5 separate regions of the Homo sapiens genome follow, and all the other regions are linked to region 5. The links come from fine-mapping of genetic effects on plasma protein levels. A gene starts in region 5. Each other region holds a variant in brackets. All regions are shown on one strand. Distances are from middle to middle. Region 1 overlaps ANPEP (alanyl aminopeptidase, membrane). Region 2 overlaps ANPEP (alanyl aminopeptidase, membrane). Region 3 overlaps ANPEP (alanyl aminopeptidase, membrane). Region 4 overlaps ARPIN-AP3S2 (ARPIN-AP3S2 readthrough). Region 5 holds the start of ANPEP (alanyl aminopeptidase, membrane).

What was found. PIP is the posterior inclusion probability: the model's chance that the variant is causal. The UK Biobank Pharma Proteomics Project read protein levels with antibody pairs (Olink). The fine-mapping took linkage between variants from a reference panel, not from the people measured, so its PIPs are less certain.
Region 1: its variant is fine-mapped to the plasma level of the ANPEP protein (UK Biobank, PIP 0.99).
Region 2: its variant is fine-mapped to the plasma level of the ANPEP protein (UK Biobank, PIP above 0.99).
Region 3: its variant is fine-mapped to the plasma level of the ANPEP protein (UK Biobank, PIP 0.99).
Region 4: its variant is fine-mapped to the plasma level of the ANPEP protein (UK Biobank, PIP above 0.99).

The regions. Positions count from the first base shown.
Region 1 is chr15:89,798,821-89,805,092 of GRCh38, forward strand. ANPEP (alanyl aminopeptidase, membrane) reads right to left here. Exons shown (of 21, transcript NM_001150.3): 4 at 6,258-6,272; 5 at 5,671-5,797; 6 at 5,433-5,587; 7 at 5,069-5,182; 8 at 4,827-4,970; 9 at 4,622-4,687; 10 at 4,419-4,484; 11 at 2,615-2,787; 12 at 2,291-2,367; 13 at 606-739; 14 at 440-495. Among named protein-coding and RNA genes, the nearest start is that of ANPEP, 13 kb to the right of the region's middle. RefSeq lists an enhancer at 5,118-6,272. The variant G/A (reference allele first, on the strand shown) is at 3,284.
Region 2 is chr15:89,781,722-89,787,993 of GRCh38, forward strand. ANPEP (alanyl aminopeptidase, membrane) reads right to left here. Exons shown (of 21, transcript NM_001150.3): 21 at 3,174-3,780. The coding sequence ends at 3,628. Among named protein-coding and RNA genes, the nearest start is that of MESP2, 8.5 kb to the left of the region's middle. RefSeq lists enhancers at 217-276, 1,341-2,003, 2,004-2,665, 2,666-3,328. The variant T/C (reference allele first, on the strand shown) is at 3,353.
Region 3 is chr15:89,788,514-89,792,939 of GRCh38, forward strand. ANPEP (alanyl aminopeptidase, membrane) reads right to left here. Exons shown (of 21, transcript NM_001150.3): 17 at 3,939-4,049; 18 at 3,647-3,814; 19 at 2,440-2,580; 20 at 1,947-2,028. Among named protein-coding and RNA genes, the nearest start is that of MESP2, 14 kb to the left of the region's middle. RefSeq lists an enhancer at 3,774-4,274. The variant A/T (reference allele first, on the strand shown) is at 3,086.
Region 4 is chr15:89,852,945-89,859,216 of GRCh38, forward strand. The region is part of intron 8 of ARPIN-AP3S2 (ARPIN-AP3S2 readthrough); the gene reads right to left. All of the region lies in intron 4 of AP3S2 (adaptor related protein complex 3 subunit sigma 2), which reads right to left. Among named protein-coding and RNA genes, the nearest start is that of MIR5094, 5.4 kb to the left of the region's middle. The variant TAAA/T (reference allele first, on the strand shown) is at 3,001.
Region 5 is chr15:89,811,991-89,818,262 of GRCh38, forward strand. It overlaps ANPEP (alanyl aminopeptidase, membrane), which reads right to left and starts at 2,862. Exons shown (of 21, transcript NM_001150.3): 1 at 2,782-2,862. RefSeq lists an enhancer at 2,431-2,930, promoters at 2,798-3,952, 2,798-3,286 and cis regulatory regions at 2,901-2,906, 3,158-3,286, 3,194-3,197, 3,196-3,225, 3,243-3,245.

The DNA of each region.
Region 1 (6,272 bases), 13 kb before region 5:
TCCCAGCAACTCGGGAGGCTGAGGCAGAGAATCGCTTGAACCTGGGAGGTGGAGGCTGCAGTGAGCTGAGATCGCGCCACTGTACTCCAACCTGGGCAACAGAGCGAGACTCCGTCTCAAAACAAACAAACAAACAAACAAACAAACAAAAACAAAAACAAAAAGCTTGGTGCTGTGGAGTAGAGGATGGCTTTGGAGTTGGACAAGCCTCTGTCTGGCTGTCATGAACTACTGTGTGACTTCGGGCAAGGTGTCACATTCTTCATCTGTGAAATGGGTGTGTGGGGACCCAGGGAGGGACGTCCAGGGAGCACAGGAGCTCAGGGCACAGCACGTGGCATATGGGAAGGGCAGCAGGAGGAGCAGGGGCCCTCATTGTGGACTCAGACTTGCTGAAGTCACGAGCTTCTGCAGCTGAGCCAGGCAGCGGAGCACTCACCTGGCCAGGTTGAAGGCGTCATTAATGATCTGTGCCCGATTGATGACAGGGATGGCCTAGAATGCGAAGCACAGCATGTGACCATGGGTTGGCTGTGGGTGGCAGGCCTTGCAGTCTGGTGCCTGTCCTGGGGCAGGGGGCAGGGCGAGGGGTGGCAGACACTCACCGAGTGGTCTCTCTGCAGCTGAGTCTGAATCTTCCTCCAGTTCTCTTCGTCGTAGTTCACCCGGTAATAGCCCGTCACATTGAGGTTCAGCAGGACCCACTCATTGCCTGATGTGCTGAAGAGATCGTTCTGGGCTGTGGAGAGGGACGAGACCTGGGCAGGGCTGCTCAGAGGCCATGGGCTGACCCCTGGACCTCTTGCAAGAGCAGCTGCCCCCGCAGCCTGGCACCACCTCACCCTCAAGCTGCTGGGGAGACGCTAAGGGTGGGGAAGGAAGGGATGAGGAACTGGGCTGCCAGTGGCTTCACAGACCATCAACCCATGAAGATGACATGCCACCCCAAACCTCAGAACCTGCCCTGCCTCCCTAGGCTCTGCACGGCCAGGCCAGCTGCCAGGCCGCTCACACTCAGCAATCCAGGCTGTTCCTCCTCCTTGCCCTCCTCCACACTCCATCACACCTGTCACCCAAGTGGGAACCACAGGCAGCTCCTCCTCTCCCTTCCCCTCCCATTCACCCAGACCCCCAGTGCTGCTGTCTCTTTCTGGGGCTTAGTGCCCCTTCCTCCCTGTGGGTCCCCCTCCTCCCTCACTCCTCTCATACTTTGTTTCAGCAGCCAGAGGTCAGGGCCAATAGGTTGCTCATTTCCCACCTGCCCCATCCACTGTCTCCTGCAGCCCCTGGGGCCCTTGGGGACCAGCTTTATCTCTTGGGCACACCTCTGCCCTAGCTACACTCAGTCCCCACACTCTCTCCTACCTCTATCCCTGGCACTTGCTATTCCCTTTGCCTGGAATTCTTTTCTCTGCCACATTAGCCTGTCTGATTCCTACTCTTCCTCTAAGACTCAGCTCACCTCCTCCGGGAAGCCCTCCCTGACCTCTCCATGAACTTGAATCTCCCTTATTCCCTGCTCCATGTCCCCATACCTCACTAGCCCCAACCATACACTCTGAAAGCACTCAGCACAGCACTAGAATGCCTCCAACTTCTTGCCTTCCTTCATCTGTAGCCTTGGCCAAGGCAAAGGATGACTTGTCATGCCCTTCGCTTCTTCAGTGCCTTGCTGAGTAGGGCTGCTCATAACATGTGCCAGGCACTACTTTAAGCATTTTATGTGGATTCTCTCCTTTTTTTTTTTTTTTTTTTTTTGAGACAGAGTTTCGCTCTTGTTGCCCAGGCTGGAGTGCAATGGTGCGATCTTGGCTCACTGCAACCTCTGCCTCCCAGGTTCAAGCAATTCTCCTGCCCCAGCCTCCAGAGTAGCTGGGATTACAGGCATGCACCACCACACCTGGCTAATTTTGTATTTTTAGTAGAAATGGGGTTTCTCCATGTTTGTCAGGCTGGTCTCGAACTCCTGACCCCAGGTCGCCTCGGCCTCCCAAAGTGCTGGGATTACAGGCATGAGCCACCATGCCTGGCCTAGGATTCTCTCCTTTAATCCTCACATAACTAATGGAGTATTGCTCTTAGCCTCATTTTATAGAAGAGGAACTAGAGACCAGAGCGGGATGGTAACTTGCCCAGAGTCACACAGCGAAGCAGCAGCAAAGTGGAGATTGGAACCAAAGAAGTCAAGTCCATTTGTTGAATGGAATGGCCCATCACAGCCCTCAGAACATGGGCCAGGAGCTAGGAGTATGGGGTGGGGGCTGCTGCCCATAAGGCAGGGCTGGATTACCTCTTACATCTATCAGCCAGTAGTCCTGCTGCTGTCTGCCATCTCTGATGGATGTGATGGGCACAATCCACACGTAGCTGCAATTAAAGATCCAGAGGTGGTGAGAGATGGCGGTGTGGTCACTGCCAGTGAGGAGCAGCTGCCCAGGCTCCCAGCTTCTGCCCAGCTCTGGCACCGAGTGCCCCTGAACTCCTGGCTCTGGAGGGAGGGTCTGTCTACAGTGGCTGGGGCTGGGACCACAGGAGGCCAGTCCTACTATGGTCCCTTAGTAACTGCCCTCTACCCCACCCACCTGACCATGCCTCAGTGACCCCATCTGCTCACTTGAATTCTGAGGGGCGGGTAACATTGGAATCGGGGTCAAGGAGGAAGTGCTCCTGGGAAAGGGTCCCCGTGCTGGTATCCACCGTGATGACCGGGAAGCCCATCTGCAGGGTCCAGCGGTTCATGATGTCCCGCACGGTGGTGGGGAGTTGGATGGACCGGTTGTTCACAGCCTGTGGGTGGAGCGAGAGGGCGTGGCCATCAGTGGGACCCTCCAGTCCCTGCCATCCAGGGCATCTCCTGCAGATTCTCGCCTCGACCCCGGGGGGCCACTTGTATGGGAGGCCTGGGAAGGGCACTGGGCTGGGAGCCGGGAGCCAGGGTACCGTCCAGCTCTGCCTCTCCTCGGCTGCTCAGTGCTGGACGAGCTGGAGAACTTCCCAGCAAATCTATGAGGCCCTCCATTCTGTGGTCCACCCTGAGGTGTGTATGTCAGGGAGGGGGTGCCCAGGATGCCCATGGCTCTTCCTGAACAACACTGGGAGGAGGACAAGAAAGAGGAGACAGAGATGAGAGAAAGCCAGTGTTCAGGTGTCACAGGCAGGGGTGGGGGACGGGGCCCTGGGGGTCGCATGAGGGAAGTGCACTCGGACTGGGGTGTGGGGCGGGACTCAGGGGCACTGTTGTTGTCTTCTTGTCTTCTTGGATCTTTGCTCATGCACCTGCCTT[G/A]CCTTTGTCATCACAACAGAAAGCCAACCCCATTTGTTAATAACTGAAGAAAGGAATCACCTAAGAACGGGGCCACACAGAGGGCAGAAGAGCATGTGGGGAGGAACCAGCTGGGGGCTGCCGGCCGAGGGTCTCAGGAAAGAGGAGTGAGAGGGAGGAGAGCTTGGCTTAGGAGGGAACGCAAAGGGGAAGTTGGGGCAGGGCAAGGAAGGTAGTGGGGGAGACCCAGGCAATGACAGTGTCATTTTGTCAGCAGCATCTTGGGGTCTAGGGGGTTGGAAATTGCCCAGCAGGGACCCGGACCTCAGCTGTGACTCTGTGACAAGATCCTGGGTCTCGCTTCCCTGGTGAGACAGGCCTGGACTGGAAGTGCAGCAGCAACAGTGGGGTAGAAGCTGGACGGGAATTTGAGGCTCGGAACTCTGGAGGGGCTGTCGGTGAGGAGAGGACATGTCTGTCCTCTGGCTTAAGACGCTAGCATTGGGCAGAGCTGCAGGGAAGGGGTAGGGGGCAGCTGTCAGGGAAATGATGTCAGCGGAAATGATGGGGGCAGGATGGAGAGGAGGTGGACTCCAACCCTGGGGGAGGGAGAGGAGCGGCGGCCTCTGGGGGAAGGCAGGAGGGTGTGGCAGTCTGGGGATCTGCCCTACAAACAGGGGCTGTGCGGGGTCTGATGGAGAGGAACTCGAGCCGGGGCAGGGGCAGAGGGCAGAGTTCCTGCTGAGGGTGGTGGAGCTGTGTGCAGAGACATGCCCGTGGCGCCAGCGGGGGGCACAGGGCAGCCAGGAGTGGGGAGAAGGTTGAATGTCAGGCTCCAGAGTTCCAGGCAGAGGCGGGAACCATGAGGGCAGTTTCCTCACCACCAGGAAGGGGCTCTACAGCTCCCATCAAGAAGCCCGCTGTAGCCTGAGGTCAGCTGCTGGCCAGGACCTCAACCACAGCCTCACTCAGACACCTCTTGCAAGGAGCCATCCCGGCTTCCACTATAGGGAGGAGCAACAGAGGCTCCATCCACCCTGCAGGGCTGGTCAGCCGCGGAGCTGGACCCATTCTCTTACGCATGTGCTGCCCCCAGGTACCTTCAGCATCTCAAGACCCCAACAGGATGGCTGTGGAGGGGCTGGCTGCTACTGACCTCCTGCAGGTGGTCCCACAGGTTCAGGTAGATGGTGTTCTGGTAGGCAAAGGTGTGGAGGTAGGACTGTGGAAAGACGGGGCACAGTGAGAGCACAGCTGGAGCCCCCCAGGCTCCCCCTCTGTGGTGGGCAGAGGCCCGGGTCAAGGGCGAGGGGCAGAAGGAGACCCACCCTCATGGCTGGCCCAGGGTGCAGTACTCACCGCCAGGCCCTGCTTGAATACGTCCTCGGACAGGAAGCTGGAGAGCATCCTGAGGACTGAGGCGCCCTGGGGTGGGGGTGAGGGGGCGCTCAGAAGGCTGTGCAGAGCCACCAGGACCCTGTGCCCCCAGACCCTGCCTTCAGTGAGGCCCCTCCAGGCCAAGTCCCCACCTCCTTCCCCGTGCCCCACGAGGAGCGGGCTGCACCTTGCTGTAGGAGATGGCGTCAAACAGCTCACTGATCTGGGCCGGCGTGTTGATCTCCGAGGCGGGTGTGGACAGCGGGTGGGAGGAGGCCAGTGCATCCACTGCCATCACGCGGTACACATCATTCAGCACCATGAGGTCTTTCTGCAAATTCCCCAGGGCCATCAGGAGACTGGCCTGGTAGCGGTGGCCCAGGTCTCCCTCCATGCCCCCCGCACCAGACCCCTGGGCAGCTGGCTTACCAAGTTCCAGGTGGGCTCCGCATAGTCAGCACCCAGGTACTCCACGTAGGAGGCGAAGCCCTCGTTCAGCCACAGGTCATTCCACCACTCTATGGTCACCAGGTTCCCGAACCACTGTGGGGGGAGGGGTCAGCTGGGCAAGCCACGCCCAGGCTGGGCACTGAGAATCCCCAGAACTACCCTCCCCAGGGCTGGCCATCTGCCAGGCACAGTGGGGATTTCAACACCATCGTGACCCCTTCCTGCTGCCCTGCCAGGCGGCACCCTCCTCCCTTCTCAGCAGCCCGGGGCAGAGCCTGGACTTGCGCCGTCTCCTCTCGGAGCCCCTGTTTCCTTCTCCGCACTCCCCGAGATGGGGGTCTACCTGGTGGGCCAGCTCATGAGCAATCACAGTGACCACCCGCTCCTTGTTGCTGCTGGAGGAGGACAGGGGGTCGAACAGCAGGGAGTTCTCCCGGTAGGTCACCAGTCCCCAGTTCTCCATGGCGCCGGCGTTGAAGTCTGGCAGGCCAATCTGGTCTGGGGAGGCGATGCCATTGGCAGGATGAACTCCGGGAGTGGAGCTCCATCCACTGCCTCCCTCCTCAAGGACCCCCACTCACCTGATTTTGGGAGTGGGTAGGGTGTGTCATAATGACCAGCAAAGAAGTTAAGGATGGGGCCCGTCACGTTCAGGGCATAATCGCCGTGGCCCGCCGCAATGGCACTGGGCCGGGCCCAGATCCGGATCTGCAAGGTGTGAGGAAGAAGCAGACCAGGGGCTCCTGTTTGATCCTGGGGCAGGTGGGCTGGGTCCCAGGGCCCAGTGGGCTGGGGGGATCCCTGATGGGCCAGGGCTGGAGGCCAATCAAGCTAAACCTAGAGGCCTGGTCAGCAGAGGGGAACGCTACTGGGGTCTGGAGGCTGTGGGTCCTAGAGAAGGGCCTTTGGAGAATAACAATCATCATAGCCACCGTCTGTCTGGTAACCGGTGGGTCAGGAACTCCCTTCATGAAGAGAAACCATTGTTTTCATTTTTCAGGTGCAGAAATGGAGAACCAGAGAACAAGACACTTGCCTGAAATCACTCAGAGGTGGGATTCCAACCCTGGCCTAACAATTCAGAAACTGGCACAGGGATGAAGAGAACGGGAAGACCCCTCAAGCCGGGGCCAGCCCACGTGAAGGAGAGATGGGCCCAGCCTCATACCAAGACACCATTGGA
Region 2 (6,272 bases), 30 kb before region 5:
CAAGGTGGGGTGATCACTTGAGGTCAGGAATTTGAGACCAGCCCGGCCAGCATGGTGAAACCCCGTCTCTACTAAAAATACAAAAAATTAGCCTGGCGTGGTAGTGAGCGCCTGTAATCCCAGCTACTCAAGAGGCTGAGGCAGGAAAATCGCTTGAGCCCAGGAGGTGGAGGTTGCGGTGAGCGAGATCGTGCCACTGCAAGCCTAGGCGATAGAGTGAGACTCTGTCTCCAAAAAAAAAAAAAAACAAAACAAAAAAAGGAAAAAGAAAATGAAAGATTGCGTTAGCTATGCTGACTCCACAGTCTCGAAAGGCTGAGTCAGAGGAGCCACCAAGGCTGCTGCCTACAGAGCCTCAGCACCTTCCATTCCTGCTGGACTTGAGTGCTGAGGGCAGGCAAGAGCGCTGGGCAGGGAATCAGCCGCCAGAGTTCTAGTTGGTTCCTGCTCTTTGACCTTGACCAAGGCTCTGCAGGCATTCCTCTGGCTCTGTGTATCCTCACTGCATTCCAGGATCAGCCATGGAGGTCCTGATGAGTGCCAGCATTGTACACTGCCAGGTGGCATCGTCAGAGGTGTTTGAACCAGAGCGATTCCATCTTGAATAGGGGCTAGGCAAAATGAGGCTGAGACCTGCTGGGCTGCATTCCCAGGAGGTTAGGCATTCTTAGTCACAGGATGAGACAGGAGATCGGCATAAGATACAGGTCACAAAGACCTTGCTGATAAAACAGCATGCAGTAAAGAAACCAGCCAAAACCCGCCAAAACCAAGATGGTGACAAAAGTGACCTTTGGTCATCCTCACTGCTCATTATGCGCTGATTATAATACCTTAGCTGCTAACAGACACTCCCACCAGCGTATGACCGTTCACAAATGCCACAGCAATATGCAGAAGTTACCCTGTATGGTCTAAAAAAGGGAGAAACCCTCAGTTCTGGGAAATCCCCACTTCTTTCCCAAAAAACTCATGAATAATCCACCCCTTGTTTAGCATATAATCAAGAAATAAGGCTGGGCGCGGTGGCTCACGCCTATGATCCCAGCACTTTGAGAGGCTGAGGTGGGCGGATCTCCTGGGGTCGAGAAACCCCATCTCTAATAAAAATACAAAATTAGCCGGGCATGGTGGTGCATGCCTGTAATCCCAGCTACTTGGGAAGCTGAGGCAGGAGAATCGCTTGAACCCAGGAGGCGGAGGTTGTGGTGAGCCAAGATCGCACCATTGCACTCCAGCCTGGGCAACAAGAATGAAACTCCGTCTCAAAAAAAAAAGAAAAAAAAAATCAAGAAATAGCTCTTAAGTTTACTCAGTTGAGCAGCCCATGCTGCTGCCCTGCCTGTGTAGTAGCCATTCTTTGATTCCTTTCCTTTCTTAATAACTTGCTTTCATTTTATGGACTTGCCCTGAATTCTTTCTTGCATGGGCTCCAAGGATCGAGACCTCTTTCCAGTAACGGCACAAGCATGGCAGTATAGACGTCACGCACTCCACCCCAGCTCCAGATGGAGAACTGGCTTCCACTTCTGTGCAGGGAGTAAAGCCAGACAGTGGTTCCAGTTCAGTTCTACTGAGTTGTGACTTCATCTCCTTGCCCTGCAGTTTCCTTATCTGTAAAGCTGACATAAAGATATTCCTTATCTCATGGTACGGTTTAGAACTAAATGAAATAATGTGCATAAACTCTTCTCCCTGGCAGGCCAGCTCTCTCCTCTGCAATGTCCAGGGATCCTAGAGCCCATTAGAAACTCAAGATGGTGAGGCCGGCCCCTCCCACAGCTGGTCCCCAGAAGGTCAAGTGCCAGCCACGGCCGCTGGGTACTGGCGACAGGAAGGGTTGGCCCAAAGTGGCTGGCGGAGCTTAATCTGGGGCGGCCCAGGGAGCCTCCTGGCTGGTGGAGGGACAGAGCACCATCATCCGGGCTGGCCTCCGCCCTTAGCTCACCCTACTCTTTGATGTGCAGATGGTGGTGGGGGATGGGGGGCCTTCCTGGCCCCAGGCCTGCCTGCTTCTCACAAGGGGGAAGAGGGCCAAGGGTGATAATAAAACCCAGCTCTCCTTATGCGTCAGGCCATTTGCTAAGTACATGTATCTCCTTCAATCCACACACCAGCCCAACAGCTCTGACACTGCCTCGTTGTGCAGATGAGACCTAGGCTTGGGCATGTGGGTCCCTTGTCTAAGAAACTGAAACCAGACCTGCTGGACTCCATGATTCCAGCCTGCGGAGCTGGCTGTGGGTGTCTGTTGGAGGTGACTCCTAAGGACCCCTGTGGCTGTTCCCGCCTTCTCCCCCTCCTCTCAGCCTTGGATGTTCAACTGGGCCTTGCGGGGCAGAGGCTGAGGGGAGCCTGCCACAGTGGGGCTCCATTTGTCAAGAAATGCTCACCAGGGCCAATGTGTGCGTGGAGCTGCGCTGGTCCCAGGCCTTCTCAGAGTTGGCCCTGACCATCTTCTGCCCCAGGCGATGTGGAGGGCACAGCCCCCACTTTATGAGCCTGGCAAAGCTGTCCCCACCCCATGGTTTGCCTGCTCCTCAGCCCAGCCCATCCCTGTGTGCTGCTCTAGAAAACAACCTCTTTATGCATTGGTACCCACACCCCACTCCACCCTTCCACCACGGAAGACGGTGGGGCGTGCCCTTGGCCAGTGAAGGGTGGCACCAGGTATGGGACCCTGTGCTTGCTGCCTTCACTGCACAGACCTGTCCCGCATTGTCCCAGGTATCCCAGGTGTTCCCGTGGAGCAGGAAGAGGGGCACGGCCAGCACCCTGCACCCTTGCCTCATGTTAAGGAGGGTGCTTCCTGGAGAGCACTCCCTGCGCTCTGCCAGGGCCCCTCTCACCACTCACTGCGGGAGCACTGGGTCCACAGCTCCCCACCACCCAGCAGCTCCAGCTGCCATCAGAATAGGAATAAAAGGAGCCCTGCAAACCACCCAGCTAGCTCAGTCAATAGAGCATGAAAAGGAGCCCGGAGTCCTGCAGGCAGACATGGAGGCACAGGCGCAGGGCACCTGCAGGAAGGGCCGGCAGGCTGGGCACGTCTCCCCTCCTGTGCTCTGGGGTCCCAGACTCCACGGTGCTCCGCATGCACCCAGCTTCCCCCACCCGGCCTCCCCAGCTGCTGTATTGACCCACTCCTGCTTTAGTTTAGTAATGAGTCTCACTCATCTAGAAATCCTTTATTTACATTTTCTCTTAGAAAAAAATATACAGATCTGCTGCCCTGTTGATTCCTCAGATTTAGGGTCTTTAGGGAAAGGTGAAAGAGGGTACAGGGCGGCCCCCAGCAAGGCCGTTCATTGTCCATCGAGAGCTTCTGCTCATCTGGCCCTGGAGCTGGGCT[T/C]CCCTGAGATCAGCCCCAGGGCACTGGGCGACAGGTGCCATGCCAGGCCTAGGGCGGGGTTGGCATGAGGGGCAGGGGCTGGGAGGTGCTCAGGCAGCCTGGGTCATCAGGAACTAGACTGGCTCACAGGCAGAGAGAACGTGGGCTGGAGACTTTGTCCTTGAGGGGAGGACACTGGTGCCTCGGGCTCCAGGAATGGAGGCCCTGCACCAGCCGCTGGGATGGACACATGTGGGCACCTTGCATGGGGGCCGGGTGACTTCAAGGGCTGGGGACTATTTGCTGTTTTCTGTGAACCACTGGAGCACCACCTCCTTGTTCTCCTTCACCCACTTGATGTTGGCTTTCGTCTTCTCCAGGGCTTGCTCCAGGGCCCGGGTGCCTGAGCCGAAGCCTGTTTCCTCGTTGTCCTTCTTGAACTGCTCCAGCTGCCAGAAAAACAAAAGATTCTCAGTCCGGCTGGGTCCCTAACAGCCTTGAGGAGGAGCTCTCTCAGGCCTCTGGCTTTCCACTCCCACTTTAGAGTCCCCATGGATGGGACCACACCCTGTTCCAGGGATAGGCAGGACGTCCACCTTGCTCCCGGGCAAAGTCCTTGTGAACACAGAGGTTGCAAAATGACAATCCCAGGCAAAACCTGGCTCAGGGAGATTCTGGCCTTCAGGTGTAATATTTTATTATAATATCAATCCAATCAAGAGAGTAGAGAGGGGCTAATGAAGCAACCAGCCAAATCTAAAATGTGGAAATTTCTATACCACAAATGATCCAGTTGCTTCAGTAAATAAATGGGTTTAAAAAAAAAATACTCCTACAAATTAGAAGAGTTATCAGTCCTGGAGGTTCTAGCCAGGCAATCAGCCAAGAGAATGAAATGAAAGGAATCCAGAAAGGAAGAAGTAAAACTATGTGTATGACATGTTTGCATACATAAAAATTTTAAGGAATCCATTAAAAAATCTATTAGAACTAATGATTTCTGCAAGGTTGCAGGATACAAGAGCAATACACAAATATCAATTGTATTCCCATACATTAGCAATGAAAAACCTGAAAATGAAATTAAGAAAACAATTCCATTTACGATAGCATCAACAAGAATAAAATATTTAGGAATAAATTTGACAAAATAAGTGCAAGACTGGAATGCCAAAAACTACAAAACATTTTTGAAAGAAATTAAAGAACACCTAAGTAAAAAGAAAAAAGACCCAAATAAATCTGTGTCCATGGACTGGAAGATTTAGCATCATTAAGATGGCAATAGTCCCCATATTGCTCTAGAGATTCAATCCCATCAAAATTTTAACTACTTTTTTTTTTTTTTTTTTGCGGAAATTGATCAGTGATCCTAAAATGCATAAGAAATTGCAAGGGACCCAGAATAGCCAAAACAATATTGAAAAAGAACACAGTTGGCCAGCCTGGGCAAGATGGTGAAACCCTGTCTCTGCAGAAAAATACAGAACATTAGCCGGGCATGGTGGCATGTGCCTATAGTCCCAACTACTCAGGAGGTTGAGGTGGGGGGATCACCTGAGCCTGGGAAGTTGAGGCTGCAGTGAGCTGTGATCTCACCACTGTACTCCAGCCTGGGTGACAGAGTGAGACCCTTTCTCAAAAAAAAAAAAAGCAAATTGGAGGACTCACACTTCCCAATTTTAAAACTCACTACAAAACTATAGTAATCAGGACAGTATGGTACAGGCATAAGGATGCAAATATAGATGAATGAAATAGAATTGAGAATCCAAAAACAAACCCTTATATTTACCGTCAATTGATTTTCAACTAGGTTGCCAAGACCATTCAGTGGGAGAAGAACAGTCTTTTCAACAAATGGGACTTGGACAACCGGATATCCACATGCAAAAGGAATGAAGTTGGACCCCAACCTCATATCATATACAAATATTAAGTCAAAATAGATCAAATGCCTACGTTTGAGTGAAAACATAATAAAACTCTTTTTTTTTTTTTTTTTTTTTTTGAGGCAGAGTCTTGCTCTGTCATCCAGGCTAGAGTGCAGTGGTGCGATCTCAGCTCACTGCAAACTCCGCCTCCCGGGTTCAAGCAATTCTCCTGCCTCAGCCTCCCGAGTAGCTGGGATTACAGGCGCCCGCCACTGCATCCAGCTAATTTTCGTATTTTTTAGTAGGGACGGGGTTTCACCATCTTGGCCAGGCTGGTCTTGAACTCCTGACCTCATGATCCACCTGCCTTGGCCTCCCAAAGTGCTGGGATTACAGGCGTGAGCCGCCATGCCTGGCCAATAAAACTCTTAGAAAAAACATCGTCAGGTCTTTTGTGGGTTTGAAAAATTTTTTTGAAATAAAAAAATAGGTATAAATCTTCATGACCTTGGGTTAGACAATACTTTCTTAGATATGATACATAAAGTATAAGCAACCAAAGGGAAAAAAAACAGATAAATAGGATTTCATCAAGATTTAAAATTTTGGGTATCAAAAGACCTATTAAGTGAGTGAAAAGACAGTCCATAGAATGGGAGAAATACTTGCAAACCCTATCTCTGATTAAGGGTCTAATATTCAGAATATATAAAGAACTCTTACAATAAAAAGACAACCCAATTTTAAAATAGCAAAAGACTGGGCACAGTGGCACATGCCTGTAATCCAAGCTACTCAGAAGGCTGAAGTGGGAGGGTTGCTTGAGCCCAGGAATTTAAGGACAACCTAGGCAACATAGTAAGACCCTCTCTCGAAAAGAAAAATAGTCAGTTTTACCCATTTCTCCAAAGATACACAAATGTGTATAAGGCCAATAAGCACATGAAATATTCAACATCATGTCATTCATTACTCATTAGGGAGATATAACTGAAAACCATAATGATACCACTTCCTACCCACTAGATGACTATACTAAAAAAAGAGGGAAAGAGAGATAAGTGTAG
Region 3 (4,426 bases), 24 kb before region 5:
TTTTTTTGGCGTAATAAAAATGTTCTGGAATTAGACAGTAGTGATGGTTGTACCACATGGTTTTTTTCTGTTTGTTTGTTTGGTTTGGTTTGGTTTTGGTTTTTTGAGACAGGGTCTTGCTCTGTCACCCAGGCTGGAATGCGGTGGCACCACCTCCGCTCACTGCAACCTCTGCCTTCCTGGTTCAAGCGATCCTCTCACCTCAGTCTCCTGAGTAGCTAGGACTACAGGTATGCACCACCATGCCCAGCTTATTTATTTATTTATTTATTTATTTATTTATTTATTTAGAGATGAGATCTTATGATATTGCCCAGGCTGGTCTCAAACTCCTGGGTTCAAGGGATCCTCCTGCGTTGGCCTCCCAAAGTGCTGGGATTACAGGCATGAAGCACCCCACCCACCCTACCTTGTTAGTTTACTGAAAACCACTTAAAATGGTGAGTTTGATGGTCCATGAATTATATATCAATTTTTTTTTTTTGAGACAGAGTCTCACTCTGTCGCCCAAGCTGGAGTGCAGTGGCACAATCTTGGTTCACTGCAACCTCCGCCTCCTGGATTCAGGCAATTATTCTGCCACAGCCTCCCGAGTAGCTGGGACTACAGGCACCCCCCACCACACCCAGCTAATTTTTGTATTTTTAGTAGAGACAGGGTTTCACCATGTTGGCCACGCTGGTCTGGAACTCCCGACCTCAGGTGATCCACCCACCTTAGCCTCCTAAAGTGCTGGGACTACAGGTGTGAGCCACCACGCCCAGCAAATTATATCTCAATTTTTAAAAAAGACAAACTAACTTAATCCAAGTTGACTTTGTCAAGCTTCTAATTCAAGCATATATATCAATTGTAAAAAGACCTTTTATAAACAACTTAGAAAATTTGAATATGCCTTGGGTATATGATAGTAAGAAGATAATCATTTTCCTGGGTTTGCTAAGGACAGTGTGATTATGTTTTAAGAATCCCTTTATTGCTGGGCGCAGTGGCTCACACCTGTAATCTCAGCACTTTGGGAGACCGAGGTGGGTGGATCACTTGAGGTCAGGAGTTCGAGACCAGCCTGGCCAACATGGTGAAACCTCGTCTCTACTAAAAATACAAAAATTAGCCGGGTGTGGGGGCGCATGCCTGTAATCCCAGCTACTCGGGAAGCTGAGGCAGGAGAATTGATTGAACCCCAGAGGCAGAGGTTGCAGTGAGCCGAGATCATACCACTGCACCACTCCAGCCTGCATGACAGAGCGAGACTCAGTCTCAAAAAAAAAAAAAAGCTGGACGCCGTGGCTCACGCCTGTAATCCCAGCACTTTGGGAGGCCGAGGCAGGCAGATCATGAGGTCAGGAGATCGAGACCATGGTGAAACCCCATCTCTACTAAAAATACAAAAAAATTAGCCAGGCGCGGTGGCGGGCACTTGTAGTCCCAGCTACTCAGGAAGCTGAGGCAGGAGAATGACGTGAACCCGGGAGGCGGAGCTTGCAGTGAGCCCAGATCGCACCACTGCACTCCAGCCTGGGTGACAGAGCAAGACTCCATCTCAAAAAAAAAATAAAAAATAAAAAAAATAAAAGAATGCGTTTATTTTTCATATGACTAAATTATTTAGAGGTAAAATTACATGATCAGTGATTTGCTTAAAAATTGCCCGCCCGGAAAAAGTACTGGCAAAATGTTGATAATTGTTGAACCTGGGTAACGGGTACATGGAGGTTCATTATACCACTCTTCCCTTTTGTGCCTATACAAAAATCCCAAGATGAATTTTTTAAATTGAATTATCAACATTTCCAAAGTCTGGCTACTCGGCTTCCTCTGTAAATGAGGAAGGCCTGGCGGCGTGGAGCCTGTGCTCCCTCAGGGCCACGTGGGAGAAGAATGGAGTGCCCCTTTGGCCTGGGAAGGAAGTAGGCAGAGCCCAGGTCTGGGGAATGACTTCTTACCTGCTGCAGCTCATACTCGGTGGAGAATCGTCGTGTCACTGCCTGGATGAGGTTGGAGAAGGAGAACGAGCCACCACCATAACTGCAGGGAGGGAGAGAGGTGAACTGTGAGGGAGGCCGGGAACTAAGGAGGCTCATCCTCACACCTACTGGGTAGGGAGCCATGATTATAGAGGAGATGAAATGACACGCCCTGGGAGACCCCACTAGGATGTGGGGGAGTCACAGCTTGAACACAGGTCTGACTGCCGAGTTCCTCACTCCCCTCTCTTCTGGAGAATACGCCCACACGCCACGTTTTCCTTCCAAATGGGAAAAGGGACGGCCCATACCCCAGCTTGTCTTTCCATTCCTGCCCCACCCTAGCCCCCAGGCTTGGCTGATTTTTGTCCACTTCTGGTTAGTGCCCCCGGCGTGTCTTACCCGCACAGGCCACCCCCCGGGGCCCCAGCCTCGGCGCTCGCTGTCCCTGACACCCATTCCACAGACTCACTCGTTAAAAAGCTTCTTCCAGTTGCTCTGGACAAAGTCCCAGACCAGACCTTGCCCAATGACGTTGTTGGTAATGCTGATGATGGTAGAGGTGGCGTCCTGCTTCCGGATTAAGTCCGGGTTCAGGGTGTAGCTCAGGTACCTAAGAGGGCCAGATGCTGTCTCAGCTACTGCTAATTCAGGTGACTCAGGAGAGAACTTGGACTGTCCCACGCACATCACCTATGCCTGCATCCTCTCAACATCCCCTCGGCCTGCCAGGGGCTGAGGGACCCCTTGGTCCTTCTTCCCTCTATAGATGGAAAACTGAGTCACCTAAGCAGGGTCACAGGGTCACTGGCTAAGCTAGTGTCATGCCTGACATAGAAATATTTGACAATGAATCAATGAAGGAAGGAGTCCTAGCGCCCCAAGCCCTGGCACCAGGTGGGTGGTCACTCCCGTCTTTGACACTGAGGGTGGCCCTTCTTTTCTTTTCTTTTCTTTTCTCTTTTCTTTTCTTTCGAGACGGAGTCTCACTCTGTCGCCCAGGCTGGAGTGCAGTGGAGCGATTTGGGCTTACTGTAACCTTCGCCTGCCAGGTTCAAGTGATTCTCCTGCCTCAGCCTCCCGGGTAGCTGGGATTACAGGCATGTGCCACCATGCCT[A/T]TTTTTTTTTTTTTTTTGTATTTTTAGTATTTTTAGTAGAGACGGGGTTTCTCCATGTTGGCCAGGCTGGTCTCGAACTCCTGACCTCAGGTGATCCATCCACCTCAGTCTTCCAAAGTGCTGGGATTACAGGTATGAGCCACCACACCCTGCCCAAGGGTGGCTCTTCTTTACTGCATCCAGGTAATGGCATATGAGGCACATGGTGGGAGGTGGGGACCCTCATCCAAGGGCTTGAGGGGGTGCCCAGCTGGATGTTTGAAAAGACCCAGGTCCAGCTACACCAGAGCCTTTGACAGAAGGGAAGACGAGTTGTTGTCAGGTAAAGGCTAAGAGGCCACAGCAGCTAGGAACAGAGGACATGGACCCAGACCTGAGTCCATATCTTGTCTCTATCACTTATTAAAGCTTCCAGTCTGCACCGGTTACTTTGGAAATACTGCCTCCACCTCAACAGGTCTGTGGGGGTCACGTGAAGGATCTGGCGAGGAGTGTGGAGGCCTGCCTGGTTCTCCAGGTGGGGAGAGGGCTCTCGCAGTCCCACCCTGCGCCAAGACTCACCTGTTCAGGATCCACAACTCTTTGCTGCAGGCCAGGGCTGCCCGGAGCTTGTCAGCCTCATTGACCAGTGTGGCATTTCGGAACTGCTCCCAGGCGAAGTCCCACTCCTCCTCCCCGCCCTGGGCGATAGCGTTGCAGTAGACGGTGGACCGCAGGTTGGGGTGGATCCTGGTGTGGGGTAGGGAGGTCAGGTGTGGAACAGCAGCGGGGAGGGTGGGACAGGGTTCTGCTGAGGACGGGGCTGTTGGGGGCAGATGAAGACTGGCAGAGGAGGCGCAGGGGAGACACTCACGGGTTATTATTGGGGTTCTCCATCCACTGCTTGAAAAGGCCAGAGACCATCTCCTCACACTCTGGAACTCCGTTGGAGCAGGCGGTGCTGATGGCATTAACCTCGCTGTACCTGCCCCAGGGGTGACACGCGGTTAGCACACCTGGCGAACTCCAGCCAAGATTCACCTCTTGACACACAACCCCAGGCCGGCACCCTGCCTAAGGCTCTGTGGCCTAACTGGCCCTCTGACCCCCGCTGTATGTGCTTTGTGCCTTGGGCCTGAGGTTCCTTGGTCCCCAAAGCAGCCCTGTGACCCAGAAGGGCAGGAACAGGCTCCAGCCCCAGTTTCAACACCTAGAAACTGTATAACCTCAAGCCAGTGGGGTGAGCTAGAGTTTCAGTTTGGGTCTTTGTATAAAGAGGTCCGATGGGCCCTCAGGCCACATGGAGCCTCAGGGCAGGACCTCCCTGCTCCTGGGTGGGGGTCTCTCCCTGCCTGGTGCCCC
Region 4 (6,272 bases), 41 kb after region 5:
GGGCATGCTCATGGAGGTCTTTGTACATAAGAAGGGGCTGCAGCTTCACCCTTTTGGCAGTGGTCCCCAACTTAAAAAAAAATTCATGAAAATTCACTTAAATAACACACTTCCCTCAATCACTCAGTGTCACTGAACTATCATAAGGTTTTGAGGAAGGTGGTGGAGGGGAGTGAGGCATGTCCTTCTCCTTAAGAATCACTGCAGCTGGGGGTATACATCAGCAAGGGAGTTAGTAAAAAATACATTTTTAAATATATCATTAGGAAGGTGTGTAAAGGATAGTCTTAAGGCACAATATAGGAGGCAGAGAGACTAGTAGGAAAAAAGTAAAAATAAAGACAAATTCACCATTTATTGAACTAAGCAATTATTCACTAATTCCGATCCTCAAATAATTGAATGGTGGATATTACTGTATTATATCAAATCTAAGACTTCACTGATTGTAAAACATACTATTTTTATGTGCTACTACAAAAGAAAAATGACATACCATTGATTATAAGAAAAATCTTGATTTGAGATGTTAAAATTATAAATGGTACCCAAAAAGTGAGTCTAAAGAATCAATGAGGGCTGCCACCCCGTCTGGGAAGTGAGGAGTGTCTCTGCCTGGCCGCCCATCGTCTGGGATGTGAGGAGCCCCTCTGCCTGGCTGCCCAGTCTGGAAAGTGAGGAGCGTCTCCGCCCGGCCGCCATCCCATCTAGGAAGTGAGGAGCGCCTCTTCCCAGCCGCCATCACATCTAGGAAGTGAGGAGCGTCTCTGCCCGGCCGCCCATCGTCTGAGATGTGGGGAGCGCCTCTGCCCCGCTGCCCCATCTGGGATGTGAGGAGCGCCTCTGCCCGGCCGAGACCCCGTCTGGGAGGTGAGGAGCGTCTCTGCCCGGCCGCCCCGTCTGAGAAGTGAGGAGACCCTCTGCCTGGCAACCACCCCGTCTGAGAAGTGAGGAGCCCCTCCGCCCGGCAGCTGCCCCGTCTGAGAAGTGAGGAGCCTCTCCGCCCGGCAGCCACCCCATCTGGGAAGTGAGGAGCGTCTCCGCCCGGCAGCCACCCCGTCCGGGAGGGACGTGGGGGGGGGGTCAGCCCCCCGCCCGGCCAGCCGCCCCATCCGGGAGGGAGGTGGGGGGTCAGCCCCCCCGCCCGGCCAGCCGTGCCATCCGGGAGGGAGGTGGGGGGGTCAGCCCCCCGCCTGGCCAGCCATGCCGTCCGGGAGGGAGGTGGGGGGGTCAGCCCCCCGCCCGGCCAGCCGCCCCGTCCGGGAGGTGAGGGGCGCCTCTGCCCGGCCGCCCTACTGGGAAGTGAGGAGACCCTCAGCCCGGCCAGCCACCCCGTCCGGGAGGGAGATGGGGGGGTCAGCCCCCCCACCCGGCCAGCCGCCCCGTCCGGGAGGGAGGTAGGGGGGTCAGCCCCCCGCCTGGCCAGCCGCCCCGTCCGGGAGGGAGGTGGGGGGGTCAGCCCTCCGCCCGGCCAGCCGCCCCGTCCGGGAGGTGAGGGGCGCCTCTGCCCAGCCGCCCCTACTGGGAAGTGAGGAGCCCCTCTGCCCGGCCAGCCGCCCCGTCCGGGAGGGAGGTGGGGGGGGTCAGCCCCCCGCCCGGCCAGCCGCCCCGTCCGGGAGGGAGGTGGGGGGGGTCAGCACCCCCGCCCAGCCAGCCGCCCTGTCCGGGAGGTGAGGGGCGCCTCTGCCCGGCCGCCCCTACTGGGAAGTGAGGAGCCCCTCTGCCCGGCCAGCCGCCCCGTCCGGGAGGGAGGTGGGGGGGTCGGCCCCCCGCCCGGCCAGCCGCCCCGTCCGGGAGGGAGGTGGGGGGGTCGGCCCCCCGCCCGGCCAGCCGCCCCGTCCGGGAGGGAGGTGGGGGGGTCGGCCCCCCGCCCGGCCAGCCGCCCCGTCCGGGAGGGAGGTGGGGGGGTCGGCCCCCCGCCCGGCCAGCCGCCCCGTCCGGGAGGGAGGTGGGGGGGGGGGGGGTTGGCCCCCCTGCCCGGCCAGCCGCCCCGTCCGGGAGGTGAGGGGCACCTCTGCCCGGCCGCCCCTACTGGGAAGTGAGGAGCCCCTCTGCCCGGCCACCACCCCGTCTGGGAGGTGTGCCCAACAGCTCATTGAGAACGGGCCAGGATGACAATGACGGCTTTGTGGAACAGAAAGGCGGGAAAGGTGGGGAAAAGATTGAGAAATCGGATGGTTGCCGTGTCTGTGTAGAAAGAAGTAGACATGGGAGACTTTTCATTTTGTTCTGCACTAAGAAAAATTCCTCTGCCTTGGGATCCTGTTGATCTGTGACCTTACCCCCAACCCTGTGCTCTCTGAAACATGTGCTGTGTCCACTCAGGGTTAAATGGATTAAGGGCGGTGCAAGATGTGCTTTGTTAAACAGATGCTTGAAGGCAGCATGCGCGTTAAGAGTCATCACCAATCCCTAATCTCAAGTAATCAGGGACACAAACACTGCGGAAGGCCACAGGGTCCTCTGCCTAGGAAAACCAGAGACCTTTGTTCACTTGTTTATCTGCTGACCTTCCCTCCACTATTGTCCCATGACCCTGCCAAATCCCCCTCTGTGAGAAACACCCAAGAATTATCAATAAAAGAATAAATTAAAAAAAAAAAAAAAGAATGGACTTTCCCAGGCCAGCTGTGGTGGCTCACGACTGTAATCCCAGCACTGTGGCAGGCCAAGGCGGGCAGATCACCTGAGATCAGGAGTTCAAGACCAGCCTGACCAACACGGAGAAACCCCGTCTCTACTAAAAATAAAAAAAATTAGCTGGGCGTGGTGGTGCATGCCTGTAATCCCAGCTACTTGGGAGGCTGAGGCAGGAGAATTGCTTGAACCCAGGAGGCAGAGGTTGTTGTGAGCTGAGATTGCACCATTGCACTCCAGCCTGGGCAACAAGAGGGAAACTCCATCAGAAAAAAAAAAAAAAAGGACTTTCTCAAAGAAAATGTATTTAAATGTCTGCACCAATAATTCCAGCATGTGTATGAATAAATATGATATGTCCTT[TAAA/T]AAAAAAAAAAAAAAAAAAAAGAATCAATGAAATGTGATATCATCCCTGTTTTACAACTGAAGAAAACTGAGGCACAAAGAGGTCTTTAAGAGGGTTGCATAAATTACACAGTTAGAATCTGGTAGAGTCAGAAGCCCACAAAGGCAATTCATGCAGAATCCCACTTGAGGAACACAGGGTTCCTAGTTCCTCCTGAGTGCACCCAGAGGTTATCTCCCAAGGGAGCAAAGGCAAAGTGAAAAGTGAGCCCACCCCGAAACTAGCCAGTATGCACAAGTCATAACCTTCAAAGGCAAGGTCTAATTAGAATTTGGTTTTAAAAAATGGGCCTTGGCTGGGTGCAGTGGCTCACGCCTGTAATCCTAGCACTTTGGGAGGCTGAGGAGGATGGATCACTCGAGGTCAGGAATTTGAGACCAGGTTGGCCAACATGGCGAAACCCTGTCTCTACTAAAAAATACAAAAATTAGGGCTGGGCGTGGTGGCTCACGCCTGTAATCCCAGCACTTTGGGAGGCCGAGGTGGACAGAGCATGAGGTCAGAAGTTCAAGACTAGCCTGGCCAAGATGGTGCAACCCCGTCTCTACTAAAAAAATACAAAAAATTAGCCAGGCATGGTGGTGCGCACCTGTAATCCCAGCTACTCGGAAGGCTGAGGCAGGAGAATTGCTTGAATCCAGGAGGCAGAGATTGCAGTGAGCCAAGATCACACCACTGCACTCCAGCCTGGATGACAGAGTGAGACTCCATCTCAAAAAAAAAAAAAAAAAAAATATTCGCTGGGCGTGGTGGTGCGCACCTGTAGTCCCAGCTACTCAGGAGGCTGAGGCATGAGAATTGCTTAAACCCGGGAGGCAGAGGTTACAGTGAGCCAAGATCATGCCACTGCACTCCAGCCTGGGCAACAGAGTAAGACTCTGTCTTAAAAAAAAAAAAAAAGAAAAGAAAAGAAAAGAAAAAGAAACCCACAAAATTGGGACACATATCTATTTCACATCAACTAATCAACTCTGACTGTCCTGTATTGTTTGGATAACCAACAAAGTATTACATACTGACACTATTCCAAAGGCGTTTACAATCTACTAGAAACAGTTAGAATTAAAAACTTGAGAGCATGAGCAAGAAGACAAACAGTTTGGAGAACTACAATACCGAAGTTTAGAGAAAGCTTCATCAAAAGTAAAAACTGGGCTGGGGCTGGGCACGGTGGAGGAGAGACAGGGTTTCAACATGTTGGTCAGGCTGGTCTTGAACTCCTGACCTCAAGTGATCCATCCACCTCGGCCTCCCAAAGTGCTGGGATTACAGGTGTGAGCCACCGTGCCTAGTTTATGAGCTTCTTACAGGTAGAAAATTTGAGTTTTATATCTTTGTATCTCTATATTTAGCGCAGTGTCTTTTTCCTAATGAATGCTTAATAAATGATTGTTGTTTGGTAATCAGAGAAAAGACAAAAACACTCTCAGACATCAGTACTTCATCAAGGTCAGAGAGCCAAGGTAAAGACAAATGATTTGCAGAAAGCCTCTAAGGAGGGAGGCACTCGCCTCCCACATATAAAAACCATTTATTCTGTTAAGAAATTTTATTTTAAGTCATCTTAAATTCATTTGGGAAGTATAGAAGATATAAATGCCCAATAATCAGAGAAACTGAAAAGCTGCCATGTGGGATACCTTTCCTAAGATTCAACCATGTTTTCTTCTTATTAGAGCACTCCTCTATTTTTCTGTTACTAAAATTTCTAGCTTCCCTTCTACAAAGTGATAATAAAAATCAAACATTAACTTTTCCTCTAAGAAAATCCATGAAAAAACCATGGTCATCATTGGTAATATTCAACTAGTTCAGGTTCTCCTCCCTCTTGGGCACATAATAGGATCATTTCCCCATCCCTTGGGTGGGAGCATGTGACTGATTTTGATCACTGAAATGTGAGTGTACGAGGATGTGTCACTTCAAGAGCCGGAACACACACATGCCCAGGTAGAAGCATATGTTGAGGAGATTTCCATCAGCCTGGACCTCAGAGGAACTACAGTCAGCAGACACACCACAATGGCCACATAGCACGAGTGAAAAAATAAACCTTGCTCTCATAAGCCATTGGGATTTTGGAGTAATGCATTACCTAGCCTACCTTGATTGATACAAAAATCAAGCCTGGAAAAGGGTTCTTAGTTAGGAATCAAGAGATTCTGCTTTGCTGGGTGTGGTGGCTCACACCTGCAATCCCAGCACTTTGGGAGGCTGAGACAGGCGGATCACCTGAGGTTGGGAGTTTGAGACCAGCCTGATCAACATAGAGAAACTCCGTCTCTACTAAAAAAAAATACAAAACTAGCCGGGTGTGGTGGCGCACGCCTATAATCCCAGCTAGGCAGGAGGCTGATGCAGGAGAATTGCTTGAACCCAGGAGGTGGAGGTTGCAGTGAGCCGAGATCACGTCATTGCACTCCAACCTGGGCAACAAGAGCGAAACTCCATCTCAAAAAAAGAAAGAAAAAGAAAGAAAGAAAGAAAGAAAGAAAGAAAGAAAGAAAGAGAGAGAGAGAGAGAGAGAGAGAGAGAGAGAAAGAAAGAAAGAAAGAAAGAAAGAAAGAAAGAAAGAGAAACTCTACTTCTTATCTTAGAGTAGGCTAATCCTCTTCTGCAATATAAGGAATAATAGCAAGAACAATAAAATTGAATCTCAATTCCAGCCTTTCAGGGTGCCTATAAATCAGCAACCAAAGCAAAATACAATTCGTTTTATCTGCAACATATCCAAGTAATACCATGGGTAATAAGCTTTGTTTACTGACTACAACCTTGACAAACACTAGGTTTTACTGAAAACGGCTGCATATCAAATGAATATCTCTAAAGGTCAAATTGTGCTGTTTTGTGTACACTGTTATTCTACTAACCAGTAATAAGGAATGACTAACACACCAAACTTGAAGCAGCAGGTAATCAATGAGATTGTGCACTGAGGCAATCCAAAGTTCAAGTAAGGAAAGCGAGTGTGTATATGGCAGCAGATATTCAGTATAGTCTGGAACAATCCTTGCTTTTGTTTTTTTCTTTTTTTTTTTCTTTTTTACTTAAAGAGATGGGGTCTCACTTATTGCTCAGGCTGTTCTCAAACTCCTGGGCTCAAGTGATCCTCTCGCCTCAGCCTCCCAAAGTGCTGGGGATTATCGTCGTGAGCCTCCACAACCAGCCCAAGTGTCCTTCCTTCCTTCCTTTCTTCCTTCCTTCCCTCTCTCCTTGCTTCCTTTCT
Region 5 (6,272 bases):
TGAAGGTTGACAACGATCATGCCAGGGCATAACTAAGTCACAGTCACAGTGTGGAAGACACCCACACTTGTGGGTGGGGAGAGGCTCCTTGGTCTCAGATGTGAAGTGCAAGAGGCTTTCTACTCTAATATGAAGACTCCAGGAGCCTGGGAGGGGCTGTGGCCGGGAGAGCTGAGCACCCGTGGCCGGGTGAGCTGCTGTGTTATCCATGCTCCATCCCCGACCACTGGGTCCTTGGGTAGGCCCCACCCACTCCCACTCAGTGTCCCTGACTGTGAACTATGAGACTGGGAGCTCAGGGACAACCTGGGGCTCATTGTCTGCTCTGAGGGAGCAGTGAGCGAGAAGGGTAGGGACGAGGCTGGGCCTGGGCCAGGGCACACTCTGTCCCCGCAGGCCCCTGGCTTTCTCCCAGGCTTCTGAGGCCTCCGCCCATAGCTGCATCACCCCAGGGTGCTTCCTCTGGGAGCCTTGGACATTGCCCCTCCTGCAAGAACCTCAGAAGGCCCCAATGGGAAGTTGCCTCTCATCAGCCTCTTCAGCCCAATGCAGGGCACACAGGAGGAAGGAGCAGAGGCATTTGTGGGTGGGGGAAGTACACATAGGGTTTGTGTGGGGCCACAGATCCTGCCTGGCAACTCCTGTCTGCCAAATGGGGGGTGATTATCCTGGTGAGACACATGGTAGGTGAAACTGAGCACCTACTATGTGCCCTACCAGGATAATCACCCCCATTTGGCAAATGAGGACACTGAGGCACAGAAAGGTTAAGTGATTTGCCCAAGGCCACACAGCTAGTTAGCAGCAGGTTCCACAGCTTAACTACATATGCCTCCTAAAAATGTCCTCCCATACAGCCCCTCACATCTACTGTGGCCGTGCCAAGGGGAGTTGAAGACCACAGGAGAAGACACGCACCCATTTGGCCAGACCAGGGCTGGGAGCTGGGGGTAGTTCTCAGAAGTAGAACTTGTTAGCCAGGGAGTGCTGGGGGCTGCTTCCAGACACAGGCCTGTGGAGGACCCACATCTTGCCTCCAAGGTGTGACTGGGACCACTGTAGGGCCAGGAGTGACAGGCACCCGGGGTGAAGCCCGGGCTAGGGATAGATGGCTGCCAGCCTATGTGAATAAGGACACCCCAGGGCCTCGGTGTGCGGCTGACACACTGTCCATGCCATGCCTCCAGGGCTGTCCAGGAGCCCCAGCATAGGGTTCCAGATCTCCCACCAGAGCCAGCCCAGGAACTGGACCCAGTTCCAACACCTTGGCTCCTTCCGACATGGGGACCCCCATCTATGTCCTCAGAATGCCTAGCATACAATTCTTACAGCGATGGGGCTGGAGGCCTTAGCTTAAAGGCTGTAGGGGTGTAAGGAGCGCCAGCGTGTAACGAAGGTCTCATTCCCCAGAAGGCTCTGGGGGAAGCACAGGGCAGGCGGCTGGGCTGCCTCAAGACACTGGGCCGGTTTCCCCACCTGTGAAGCGGGAGCAGCGCTGTGGGTGGCCTCCTTGCACTCATAGTGTGGCCTTCGAGGCTAGGGCTCCACAGGAAGGTGGCTGAGAGTGGATGAGGGCCTCATGGGCCCAGCACACCCTCCCACAGGGAGAGGGGAGTCCACCCTCTTCCCTGCCCAGCTCCCCCATACCCACTGGGGCTAGCCAGCCTTCCTGTGGGACAGAGGCTGTCCCCACTTCCTCCTGGTCACCCCTACCCCACACGCCCACCTCCCCTCCACAAAACACATACCCTGAGGGGCCCTCTGGTCCAAGCCTCCCCTTTCACAGGTGAATTAACTGAGGCCCAGTAAGGCCAGGGCGTTTAGAGACTCAGGGATGAAGCCACATCAGACCTCAGGTCTGGCTGAGACCAGGGCTCTGACCACCCCCGAACACGGCCTGGTGGGTTGCAGTCCAGGGGCTGAGGTGGGGGAGGAGTGGGGATCCAGTCACAAAACCCCAGGACATAGCCCACCTGGGCCGTCCCTGCCCACCGCACTGCTGGGGGGGGGGGGTGCGTTCTGGAGTCATTTGGGGAAAGGATCCCATTGGCCCTGTTTAGGGGACCTTTTCCCAGACCAAGAGTGGATTGCAATGGGGCCCTGGATCTGTCTCAGTTGCTCACCAGGGAGGGCGTGGAATAGGCTCCACAACCCCCAAACCTCGGTCCCCATCCATGCCCCGGCATCTTGGCCGGGTTGTAGGAGCGAGGGAGAACGCGACTGTAACGCGGGCGTTGAGCACCTAGAGTTCCCCTTCCTCTTCACTGAGAGCTGCGGCGGAGGCTTTAGACCGAGGAGCGAGATCTAAGGTTAAAGAAAGGGCCTCTGAGCCCAGTGTTGGCCAGAGACCCCACAGGCGGGCCGGGTTCGCCCTTTGCCTTCGGCCGCGCCCCACCCACCAGGGACAGAGTGGCCGCGGCCGAGCCGGGTCCACCCGCCGCAGCTTAGCTCCGCTCCGCCGCCCTCCCCGTCCGTCCTCCCCAGGCTCCCGTCGCCCTCGCCCACCCTGGGGCCCCCTCCCCAGATGGGAGCCCCTCCGACCCCTGCGAGGCCCGCTGGGGACCCACTTGACCGCGAGATCGTAGTGGGAGCTCGGCCAAAAGAATTCTTCGCTTTCCCTGGCCCTCAGTTTACCCATCTGGGAAGAGGGGCGTCGCGGCCGCAGAAGTCCAGCTCCGCACGCGCCAAGCGCTGGGTCTGCAGCTCCCTCGGTTCCCGCGCACCCAACTGCCCCACGACCCCTACCCGCGCCCGCAGCCCCCGCCCTCCCGCCCCACTTGCCTGGGCCGCCGGGCGCTGGAACCTGGACCCTGGACCCTGGCGGGTTCCGAGCTGCGCCGCCGCCGTCCCTGCCCCTCCAGCACTGGACTCCTCCTTTCCCGTCTTTTTAAAGGGAAGTAACCGGACCCGACCACTACTCCACCCGATTCACCCCTAGCGGGCCGCCCGCCCGCAGCTCCGCCCGGGCTCCTCCCCCGTCCGCCCGCGGCTTCCCGGGAGCCCCCCAGGGCTCCTCCGCTCCTCCGACGGCCCGGCCTTCCCCCCGGGGCCTGGGATGCACCAGGGCTCCTGCTGCCCCCGACGGGGTCCCTGTCGCCGCAGCCCGCGGGACCCGCCGGCCACATCTGGACGGCATCTGCCGCGGGGGAGGGGCTCAGAGCCTCGCCCTGAGTGTCCCGCAGGGAGCCTTGTGCATCCGGGGCAGGAAGCCAGCGCATCCCGTGCAGACGGGTGGTGCAGATAACGGACCCGCCACAGCACGCAATTCAACTTTCTTGGTACCTGGGACTCGTAGTTCAGAAGGCGCAGTAGCACGACCTTGCGAAAAAGCACCGGAGTCGGGAACACGCGCTTCTCATTTTTTTCTTTTTCCTTTATTTGTTTTTGAGACAGAGTCTCGCTCTGTCGCTCACGCTGGAGTGCAGTGGCACTTTCTCCGCTCACTGCAACTTCCTCCTCCTGGGTTCAAGCGATTCTCCTGCCTCAGCCTCCCGAGTAGCTGGGACTACAGGTGCACGCCACCACGCCTGGTTAATTTTTGGAGTTTTAGTAGAGACAGGGTTTCACCATGTAAGGCTCGTCTCGAACTCCTGACCTCAAGTGATCCGCCCGCCTTGGCCTCCCAAAGTGCTGAGATTACAGGAGTGAGCCACCACACCTGGCCTGCGCCTCTCATCTTGATCCTGCTTGCAGAGGTTGTGCAGCCACCGGAGCCCCGCCAGGGTGGGGCTCCCTGTCTCTGAGCAGCTTTAATGGGCGGTACCAGATAATATTTGTATTGGTTCCCTGTGGCTGCCGTAACACAAACATAAAACAACACTAATTTACTATCTTACAAGTTTTGTAAAATCAGAAGTCCAAAATGGGTCTCGCTGGACTAAAAGCAAGGGGGTTGAGGGATACAGCTTTCTTGAGGCTGGAAGGGAACCTGTTTCTTTGGCTTTTCTGGCTTCTAGAAGCTGCCCACATTCCTTGGCTGGTGGCCCCATCCATCTTCAAAGCCAGCAGTGGCCCACCAGTCTCTCACAATCTGTCACTCTGACACCAACTGTTCTGCCTCTTGCTTCCACTGGTGAGCATCTTTGTGATTACATCGGGCCTACCCAGATAATCCAGGGTAATCTTTCTATTTTAAATCAATGGATTGGCAACTTGAATTCCACCTGCAACTGTAATTTCCCTTCGTGGGGTAGCATAACATATTCACAGATTCTGGGCATTAGAACCAGGGCATCTTTTGAGGAGGAGGATATGATTATGTCTACCACAATATTCAAGCTGACTTCCAGACTTTCAGATTTATAATCAAATTTAAGCTCTTCCTTATCCATGATTGGAATCCTTGGGACAGTTAAAGCCTTGCACTGCATGGTCCAAATTGATGGCTTTGTGACTGGCTGTGTTTTATTATTTTACTTGCACTTGCTCTTCTTTTGGAAACTTCATGGAGGACCAGGGTACCTCTAGGTAGCAGCCTTGCTTCTCCTTCCTAATTTGCTCTGTACTCTTAAAAACCAGGTCACAAACATATCGGAATATAGAATTGTGTGTAAAGTAAGAGTAAGTAGGCTGTGAGTGAGACCTCAGAGGCTATTTTGTTTTTTTTCTCTCTCCAGTCTCATGCATGTCTGACTCTCTCCACTATCATATCTGGCATAATCTCCTCCATGTCTGACAAGCCAAGGAAAACACTACATCAGGCCAGGAGAGAATCTTCCCCCCGGAGCTCTGCCTCTCCCACCCAGGCTCCGCGGAGATTTTAAGAGGAGTAAAGATCCTGCTGTGGCAGAAGTGCAACCCAGCTTTCTGGAGGGCAGTTTGGGGTTAGGAATGAAGATCACTTTCAGAAATTTAGCCTGAAGAGGCTGGGCGTGGTGGCTCATGCCTGTAAGGCAGGTGGATCACTTGAGGTCGGGAATTCAAGGCCAGCCTGGGCAACCTGGTGAAACTGTGTCTGTACTAAAACACAAAAATCAGCCAGGTGTGGTGGCGCATGCCTGTGGTCCCACCTACTTGGGAGGCTGAGGCACGAGAATCGCTTGAACCTGGGAGGCAGAGGCTTCAGTGAGCTGAGATCACATGACTGCACTCCAGCCTCGACTACAGAGCAAGACTGTCTCAAAAAAATAAATAAATTTAGCCTAAGGAAATAGAATATTTATATGCAAGGCTTTTCACTGCAGTATTACTTATAATACTGGAAAATCAGAAATAGCCTAAGTGGGCTGGGCGTGGTGGCTCATGCTTGTAATCCCAGCACTTTGGGAGGCCAAGGCAGGCAGATTACGAGGTCAGGAGTTCGAGACCAGCCTGGCCAATGCAGTGAAACCCTGTCTCTACTAAAAATACAAAAATTGGGTGGGCATGGTGGTGGGTGCCTGTAATCCCAGCTACTGGGGAGGTTGAGGCAGGAGAATCGCTTGAACCCGGGAGGTGGAGGTTGCAGTGAGCCGAGATTGCGCCACTACACTCCAGCCTGGGTAACAGAGAGAGACTCTGTCCACCCCCTGTGAAAAAAAAGATGAAGAGACAGTGCTTGCTCCTGCAGAAAGAAAATTCATGGGCTCATAAACATGTAAAAAGATGTTCAATAACTCACTTATTAAGAAAATGAAAATTATAACTACAAAAGATACTATTCTTCACTTACCAGATCAGCAAAGATAAAAAGCAGTTTGGTAGGTCAGGCACAGTGGCTCATGTCTGTAATTCCAGCACTTTGGGAGGCTGAGGCAGGAGAATCACTTAAAACCAGGTGTTCGAGACCAGCCTGGGCCACGTGGCAAAACCCTGTCTCTACCAAAAAAAAAAAATTAGCCAGGCGTGGTGGCACGTGCCTGTAGTCCCAGCTACTTGGAAGAATGAGGTGGGAGGATTGCTTGAGCCTGAAAAGTCAAGGCTGCAGTGAGCCATGATCGTGTCACTGCACTCCAGCCAGAGCGATAGAGTGAGTCCCTGTCTCAAAAAAAAAAAAAAAAGTTTGGTAACACACTATTCGCAAGGGTGGGAGGAAAACAGGCAACCCCCTGCATTGCTGGTTGGTGTGTAGACTGACTCGACCTCAAAAGAGAATATTTGGGCAGTATTTATCAAACATATAAACACATGTCCTGTTTGACTTGGCACTTCCAGAAATTTATCCTACAGATAATGCTCACACGTAAGTGAAAGGAATACACAAGGCTTTCCACTGCATCGCTGCAACATTGAGCCAAAACCACAATGACTTTTGCACCAATCTAATAGCTGGAGACAACCTAAATGTCCACCAA